Linked DNA regions of Homo sapiens: region 2 is linked to region 1. The links come from fine-mapping of genetic effects on gene expression. A gene starts in region 1. The other region holds a variant in brackets. All regions are shown on one strand. Distances are between the middles of the regions.

Region 1 (4,380 bases):
TTTCGCTCCACACCCACGTATGTTCCATGGAACACCGCAAACATCAGGGAGTGGAGGTGGCTGTTAATAGCCCAGGGACTGGACAGGAAAATCGGTGCAGCCCAAATTTGTGCTGCCTGGGGGCTATTTCTACCGCACCACACCCTGGGCATCTTGCAAAGGGCATTTGGGCAGCTGGGGAGTCGGGTTATTGGGCCCCTGTTGGTTGGCTGTGGTTAAGGTGCAGGGGTTAACTTACTTACATGTGTCAGAGTGTGCAAAGCCTCTGCCTTAGAGTGAAACCTGAGGGGATCCCCAGGAGACCCTGATTTGAAGGTGATATCTGGGTAGAGAGTACCGGCCCTCCGGCATTTTTGCACCATCATTTCAACTCATGTTTTCTTAAAGTGGAGAGGTTAGGGTCATGGTTGCAGAGTGAGTTGGAGGGGACTCGGACATCGTGTTAGGCAGTCCTCTCCACAGCCCCTCATTTAGAGCTGAGGACCACGAGGAGCTGATATGTTACTGGGAATAACTAAGGTCTGAGTTACCTTCTCAACAACAACCAAAAGTGACTGTATAATTTTTGCTCTGGCTGTCCAGACATCTTTAGAAAAAGTCAAGTCATGACCATATCCTGTTGATTCATGAAGCCAAATTAAAATTAAGCTTCTTCAGGAAGCCCTGCCTTCTATATTCTCTCCAATTATACCATTCATTCCACAACTAGGAAGGAGAAGGAGCTGCCACGTATTGGCTTAATGTCTGGAGTTACCTGTGTTTCTGTTTGGCAGCGGACATCCAGGGTGTTTGGGAAGCAAGCACCTGCTGTAAGAAACAGACTGATCCATGCTCCTAACCCCCCTCCAGCCAAGCATCCCCATTCCTCAGGCACCTCACCTATTTGCGAAACTCTTCAACATGCCTCTCCAAGTTTCATCAAAATGCTCAGACGACTCTAAACATCCCCCGAGAGGAATTTCTGAGGTCTTTCAGATTCCATTAAAACATCAACATTATTCCCCCATCCCACTCCTAGTATATATATATTTCTTAAACAAGGAGATTGAAAAAAATGGGTTTGAATATCTGTGCTGGTGGTTATATCTCTGAGAGGTCTTAGATGGATCACCAGAGTGTTGAGGGGACTTTTGATTAATTGTGAAGCACTTTCAATCTGTTCTTTAGTGGGAAAAAGAAAGAAAGAAAGAAAAGAGGAAAAACCCATGCCCCAAGTGGCTTGCTCAATTTGCACAAACCTCATAAGAACCTGCTTCTCACTCATCCATATTGGAACGGTCACTGCCACCCCAGAGTGCGTGGCAGGAAAACCCGAACCCTGGGGCCTCAGTGGCTTCACACAGAAGCAAGTAATGGGACAAAGAGTCAAAGCTGTGTGCTCCCTACGCTCCTAAAAACCCAACACTGACGCTGCCCACAGTTCTCTGTTTCATTAAACACAAGTCCCAATGTCACCTTCTTAGACATTTTTCCTATGTAACTGAAGGCAAAACACATTAAATATTTGCTCTCGTCTTCCTATGATGAGAGTTAGCTAGCAGGCTCATAAATAATCCATTGACCAGGTTCACTTTTCTGGACAAAACTGATGGTAAAAATACATACACAAAGTCTTTGTAATGTCTGATTCAGAAATTCTACCCCTCTCAAATTCTTCAGAGTCCCAAATGGAAAAGGAACAATTCAATATGCAAAAGCCCCAGTTCAGAAGAAAATCTGCTCCTTAGCCCAAGACCCAAATCCACTCTTGAGCTCCAGAGAGCTTTTTTTCAAGAACAAGTTTGAATGTACACAATTTTCAAGCAAATGATGGTTATATCCTTCAACCACGTAGCACAGTCGTTGGAGTTGGAGTTTCACATACATTCTGAATGGCCTGTGAGGTGTCTGAGAGCGCCTCAGCTCTGACAGTGAAACCACCCAAGCGCACGGAGACTCGGCCCACTTAGGCGCCACTCAGAGATTTCTCTAGCTGTCTGGGCATTTGTGTCAACCAGAACTCTCCCTTTGCATAAAGCCACCTGCACGCGATGACAGCAAAGTAAAGATCAAACATAAACCATGGGTTGAAACGAAAGCAAGCAACTCTTCCCAAAGCGCAGGACAGCACTTTGCTCAAGACCCTCTTTAAGGGGTCTTTCACGGGTCCTCAAGAGGTTGCAAAGCCCCTGCAACAATAGACAAAGGAGCCCCCTACGCCCGCCCACTTCGAGCACTCCACGTTCCTCGTCTCCCACTCTGGCCGGTCAGCTTCAGCTCTGGCTCTTGCTGAGCGTGGAGGGCGCAGGGGCAGGATCCGGCGCCCACCGCTGGGGCGCATGCACCTCCTCGCCTCCTCGCAGGGCGGTGGGGCGCAGCGGTTCTATCCCCCTCCCCGAGGCGGGGAAGAAGGTCTGGAAAGAAACGTGGGTTCGAGGCGGAGAGGAAAAGCGGACCCACCTGCCAGGCTGCGCGGGGAGGCTGGTCCCGGGCTGGGCAGGCGGGCTGGCCTCGCGCCCTCGAGGCACCCGGCGGCGCTGGCTGTGCGGAGGGGCGCCGGCGCGGCCGTATTTGTACCCGCGGGCCCTCACATGGTCTGATCTCTAGATAGCCGCCGCCAAAGAGCTCTTGAAGAATTTTTGCGTCACTTTGAGGCGAATAAACTTAATGCTTCCCCGCGGCCGCGGCTCCGCGCTCCCGCTGGATGGGGTTGCGCTCGCCAGGGAGGGGCCGCGCTACGGGGCGGGGTGCGCGCCCGACCCCAGAGCCAGGAGGGGAGGGACCCCCGACACACACACACGCTCGCAGGGAGGAGCGGAGCGCGGAGCAGCCGGCAGGGCAGGGCCGAGCGAGGAATCCTGACTTTCCTGCTCTTTAACTTTGCGGGAGGGGGGAGGCTGCACAAAGGAGCAGGTGTGCGCCTCCCCTGCCGCCCCGCGCCCACAGGACGGCACACAGGGGTCTGCTCGTGCCGCTTTCTCTTGACCTCGGACACCTCCCCATCGTCCCCATCCCGAAAGCTGCTCTCTCTTTCTTCCTGGGACCTAGCAGTACTCGATACCCATGCGTTTATCTGACTGACCGGCTGGGATGTGAGCTCAGCTTAGAGGCCCTTGTCTAATTCCTCTCCGTCCCCAGAGTCTCACAATAAAGACTTCCACAATGAAGGAATGAAGAACTGGTTCTCATTTTGTTAACCAGCTACAGTTCAAAGCTGCGTCAAAAAGGAGCACAGTGCTTTGGGAGGCTGAGGCGGGAGGATTGCTTGAGCCCAGGAATTCAAGACCAGCCTGGGCAACACAGCAAGACCCCATCTCTAGAAAAAAAATTTTTTTAATTAGCCGGGCGTGGTTGCTCGCGCTTGTGTTCCCAGCTACTCAGGAGGCTGAGGTGGAGGATCAGCTGAGCCCGGGAGGTCGAGGCTGCAGTGAGCCGTGATCGAACCACTGCACTCCAACCTGGTGACAATTTGAATTATCTGAAAGGGCCCAGCAGGAGCCTATTGTTTTGAACCATGTGCATGTAGTTTTGATAATTTTTTCAAAAAGTTTAAAAATTGATTTAATGTTAATATCCTTTTTGCTAAAATTATTTAAAACTTTAAAAAGGGCACATGCAGTACTTGCTTTGGGTTGTCCCTGAGGCGGAAAGGAGAGGGCTCTACCTCTCCCCAAGAGGAGGCCAGGAACGATAGGAAGTAGAAGACCGAAAGGAAATAGCAGTGACAAGTTTGCAGCTCCAGAGAAGCCACCGCCCCTTGTACTTGGAGGAACTGACCCCTGAAAACTGTGCGGCCGGTTGGGCTGAGCGTCTAGAGGGACTGAGCTGGACAACCACGGGCAAGCGAGGGCAGCTCCCAGCGGGTGGAGTCCGCGCGGGATTCTGGTGCCACCTAGACGCCAGGGCGGGGACCGCAAGGTGGGCGGGAGGCTTGGAGGCCGGGATGCGGGGGAATACTGGTAGGGTGCAAGGAGAATGCTGGAGGGGTGCAGGGGGGATGCCGGGGGTGCATGGGGGGATGCTGGGGGGTGCAGGGGGGATACTGCGAGGGGTGCAGGGGGGATAATGGGGGTTGCAGGGGAGATCCTGGGAGAGGTGCAGGGGGATGCTGGAAGGGCTGCAGGGGGGATGCTGGGGGTGCAGGGGAGATGCTGGGGGGGCTGCAGGGGGGATGCTGGGGGTGCAGGGGGGATGCCGCGAGGGGTGAAGGGGGGGATAATGGGGGATGCAGGAGCGATCCTAGGAGGGGTACAGGGAGTTGCTGGGAGGTTGCAGGGGGGATGCTGGGAGGGCTGCAGTAGGGACATTAGGGGTTAGGTGCTGGCATTCAGAGCGGCAACGCCAGGCGGGAGAATCCCCAACAAGCTTGGGAATTTCACCCCCAGGGGCAGCGCCTGCACG
Region 2 (4,380 bases), 24 kb before region 1:
TTTTTTTTTTGTATTTTTAGTAGAGATGGAGTTTCACCATGTTGGCCAGGCTGGTCTCGAACTCCTGATCTCAGGTGATCCACCTGTGTCAGCCTCCCAAAATGCTGGGATTACAGGCGTGAGCCACCGCGCCTGGCCGAGACTCTTTTACAGACCCATCATCGGGAGGTCACATCTTGTAAACTGCCCCTCACAGCCTTTTTTGGTGAAATCAGCCCTTTGCTACTGTGCTGGCTGATGGTGTAGAAGGGACCCAGCTGGCTGAAGGAAGCGTCTTACCATAGAACCAAGACACAGCGACTGCTTCGATCAGCGCGACAGTGAGCACTGCGGGCCCCGTGGCATACTCCTCCAGCAGCTTCACCACGTAGGCCCCTCCCTGGAGGGGAGAGCAGAGCCTGGGTGAGGGCCCTCCAAGGAGCCACCCCTCCCAACTACAGAGACCTGCAGGGGCTTCCTCACTTAGAATCATTCTGGAAAAATCCCACCTGGGACCGAACGTGAGTACCCCAGAAACTGCCTCTTAGGCCAGGTGCGGTGGCTCATGCCTGTCATCCCAGCACTTTGGGAGGCTGAGGCGGGCGTATCACCTGAGGTCAGGAGTTTGAGACCAGCCTGGCCAATATGGTGAAAATTAGCCAGGCGTGGTGGCACACGCCTTTAATCCCAGCTACTCAGGAGGCTGAGGCGGGAGAATTGCTTGAACGAGAGGCAGAGGTTGCAGTGAGCTGAGATAGCACCATTGCACTCCAGCCTGGGGGACAGAGCAAGACTCTGTCCAAAAAAAAAAAAAAAAGAAACTGTTTCTTGGACTGTTCTTGGACTGGCCTTTGCAGTGGCAGTGTGGGCAGGTTTTACCCACTCAGACGCCTCTTCCCATCCTATGTAGTTCATTCTTCTCATTTCTTCACCCCACTAAATTTTAAGAGACAAACTCCAAAGGGCCTTGGGATCTATTTTAAACTTTCTTCAACTTATTGAACACCTGCTGTGGACACGACCCTGGAGAATCCCTGCCTCTAAAGACTGAATCCAGAAGGGCCCAGGATACCAGACACATTAAGGGCCTTGGTCACAGTTTTGCCTTTCTGTCCTAAATCATGACTCACTGGGGTTCCACTCAGTCCCCTTGACCCCCACTCCAGGGCCATCGGGGTCACGGCTTAAAGATGCACATTTGCAAAATCTGCCTTAGAGTATTTACTTCAGCTACCAAAAAAAAAAAAAAAGGATCTCTAGAGAGGGTGTGACTTCTTTACCATTGCAAATTCTGGAGGAGACCAAGCGGCATTACACACATGACGTGAAGAACGTCAGGGCAGTATCCTCAAGAAAGCAGCTCTAAAGAGTGGAAATAGGCTGGAAAAGCAAATCCTAATTTTCTCCAGATAGTTTTTGAAGCCTGAAATCTAGTGGGATCTGCGGTAAAATGCTGACAGCCCCTGGATACTATGCACGGAATCTGCAAGTAGATGCACAAGAAACAACTTTTCTTCTCCTTGATGACAAACCTTTTAATGGGAGTAACAACCTCCCCTCCTTTGGTCCCAAAGCCAGGGCACTGTGTGAGATGGAAGGAGACGAACAGCTTCCTGTAGCGTTCTGCTGCCCTAGGGGAGGCCAACTCAAAGCTGAGGGGCATGATACTCACAAAAGTCAGGGTGACCAGGGATCCAAAGAAGCAGGTGATGACCACGGCGAGCACGAACCGCTCCCGGCGCTTGGCCCAGACGTGTGGGAACTCATCCAGCACAGCCGTGATCACCCCCTCCAAGCCTGCAAACTGAGAGGTACAGGCAAGCAGTCACGGTGGAGGCTTTGGGACAAGGCTGTGGCCTTCAGGACAGTGAACAGGAGGGAGGGGTAAGGTTGCTAAGTGACTGGTCAAGCTGATCATCACCAGTTCCCCGGCTCGCTGGACCATGTAAGCATCTCAAAGAGTATTTCCCTGTTTTACACTGTCATTTAAAGCCCATCACTAAGGAGAGCCAGGAAACAAAATAGCACACGTGGACAGAACTTCAATATATGAGGTCTCTCGGGGAGACTCCGTTTGCACCAGAAAGGCCAACTCAAAGCTGAGACTCACTCCACACTAATAATTCCAGGCCCTGAACTGAACCCTTGGCAAAGCAGAGACCCAGGAGAGACCTCGCCCCGGCCTGTAGGCGCCATAATTGGGCCAAGGGACAGTGCTTAATAACAGTTCACATATGTGAGCCTTGGGCCTCATAAGCGCCTGGCGCTTGACCCACTTTATCCCATTAATGACTCGAATGTACCAGAGGGTGGTAAATGCCGAGGAGTCAGCCGGGGGTCTGGAGCACCAGAAGGGAGTAGCCAAAGCTGCCTGGGATGGCCAGGGATGGGAGGGAATTGAGTCCAGCTGAGTCCTCCTCCTTTCCTCTTCATCCTCCCACAGCCCATTTCCCCTTCCCATTTCCTCACCGTGCTGTCCAAGCCCAGCGTGATTAACATCAGAAAGAAGATGATGGCAAAGAAAGTGGACGCTGGCATGTTGGCTATCGCTTCTGCATACGTGATGAAGAGGAGGCTGGGACCTGAGACAGAGGGGAGAGAGGAGGAGGTGGTT[G/A]ACAAGACCTGTCCTACAAAGATGTCACAGAGGAAAACTCAGCCACAACAACAGTTACAATTCTCATCACAAGACCTTATGTGTGAATCAGGTTTTGACACACACCAAGTGCGTCCTCACACTCTACTCCGTCTGACGTGGCCACCCCAGTTCCTGGGAGGCAGGAAGGGTGGGGCTTCCATCTTGAAAACTGTGTGCCCTCCATTAACCCTGGGGGTGGGTAACAGATCCAAGACCCAGAGACTGGCAAAGCTGCACATGAGAATAAGAGTTTCCACCATATAACAATTCCATGGGATTTCTCAGGACCAGGATTGATATTTCTAAAGTCCATGACAGTTAGCCCCCTCTGATGTCTTCAGCTTCAGAACAGTAGGAAATGTTAAATTGATTTCCGTAGAGTCACAGAGGCTTTGGAATAAAGACCTCTTTCTATTTTAAAGTCCCTTTTGAAAGTGTGAGGGACATGTCTTCAGCCTCTCATGGGTTAGCTAGGGGTGCCCTCGTTTGGGGTATGGGGTTGGTCAAAGCACCGAATCAGGCCAAAGATACAAGCATGCTAACATGCTTGTAACAAGAAGGCCCTGGGACCTCGCCCACTAGATGCCATCATCTGTTTTTTCTCCCTCTGTTGCTCTTTTCTTTTTCCACAAAAACTTCACGGTAAAATAGAGTGGTCATATTGGCTAGATTTTCTTTTTCTGCAAGGGGCAGTTCTAAGGATAAATGATATTTGCTTACTAGACTTTGAGCCATCACAAGACCATCACAGGAAGCAAACCCACTGGTTTTAAAGCCATCATCAGAGTCATCATTTCAAGCCCATAGATTTTGGAGGCCCCAGAACTGGGTGCCAAGGGAGTTGCCCTGTCCCTGCATGGCCTGAACACATGGAAAGATCTCTAAGGCATCGAGCTTCTCTCAAATCTTTGAATAAAAAATGTTTTGGAAACAGGGTCTTATTCTGTCACCCAGGCTGAAGTACAGTGGTGTGATCATGGCTCACTGTAGCCTTGACCTCCCAGGCTCAAGCAATCTTCCCACCTCAGCCTCCTGAGTAGCTGGGACTATAGGTGTGCACTACCATGCCCAGCTCATTTATTTTTTTATAGAGGCAGGGTCTCACTATGTTGCCCAGGCTGGTCTTGAACTCCACCATGCCCAGCCTTCTTTGGAAAATTTCAGGAACATTTAGAAATAAATCAAAAGTTAGATCTTTACAAAGATTCAAAGCAAAGCAACTCAGTAGGAGCAAGGGACCTGCATAGAACCCGAGGTCCTACCTGCGTCTTTGGCCACCTCAGACACATCTTCATTCCTCATCTCAGCCATGTAACCGAGCACTGTGAAGATGACAAATCCCGAAACGAAGCTCGTCATGCAGTTCACCACGCTGGTCACCAGGGCATCTCTGGAGGGGAAAACCCAAGGGGCCGCCTGAGACAGTTCCAAGATCAGGGGTCTAAGGAGCATCTGTCCGTGTGCCTGCCCTGCCTTAGACAGGGCGGCCACAGCAAGGACAAGCAGGCTGAACTCAAGGAACCTCAAGCCTGTCCCGGAGTCCCTTCGCCTTCTCCCAGAACCCAGCTGCCGAGGCCTGAAGCTCTGACTGCCATGACCACCACACATGGTGGAGGGAGAAGAGCAGTCAGGGGTGCTTTAAAAGGCAATCCTGCTAGCACAGACCTCTCCATTTCAAACCAGCCTTGTTCTGGAGCAGGGCCCAGGTTGGAGTGGGGGCCAGGACAGGGCCTGAGCCTCACATTTGTGAGATCCTCAGATTTAGG

What was found. PIP is the estimated chance that this variant, and not a neighbour inherited with it, causes the effect.
Region 2: its variant is the best candidate, but not a certain one, in a credible set for the expression of SLC6A4 in blood mononuclear cells (TOPMed, PIP 0.64).

What each region holds. Positions count from the first base shown.
Region 1 is chr17:30,233,174-30,237,553 of GRCh38, forward strand. SLC6A4 (solute carrier family 6 member 4) reads right to left here and starts at 2,524. Exons shown (of 15, transcript NM_001045.6): 1 at 2,440-2,524. LOC105371720 (a long non-coding RNA gene) reads left to right here and starts at 4,325. Exons shown (of 3, transcript XR_007065698.1): 1 at 4,325-4,380. RefSeq lists promoters at 2,308-4,334, 2,308-4,092, 2,308-2,602, 2,498-4,322, 2,503-4,348 and 1 more, cis regulatory regions at 2,603-4,092, 2,964-3,788, 3,665-3,704, 3,932-4,102, 3,971-3,990 and 2 more and a silencer at 2,758-2,940.
Region 2 is chr17:30,208,864-30,213,243 of GRCh38, forward strand. SLC6A4 (solute carrier family 6 member 4) reads right to left here. Exons shown (of 15, transcript NM_001045.6): 9 at 3,877-4,004; 10 at 2,449-2,561; 11 at 1,652-1,783; 12 at 280-379. Among named protein-coding and RNA genes, the nearest start is that of SLC6A4, 25 kb to the right of the region's middle. RefSeq lists an enhancer at 3,799-4,258. The variant G/A (reference allele first, on the strand shown) is at 2,594.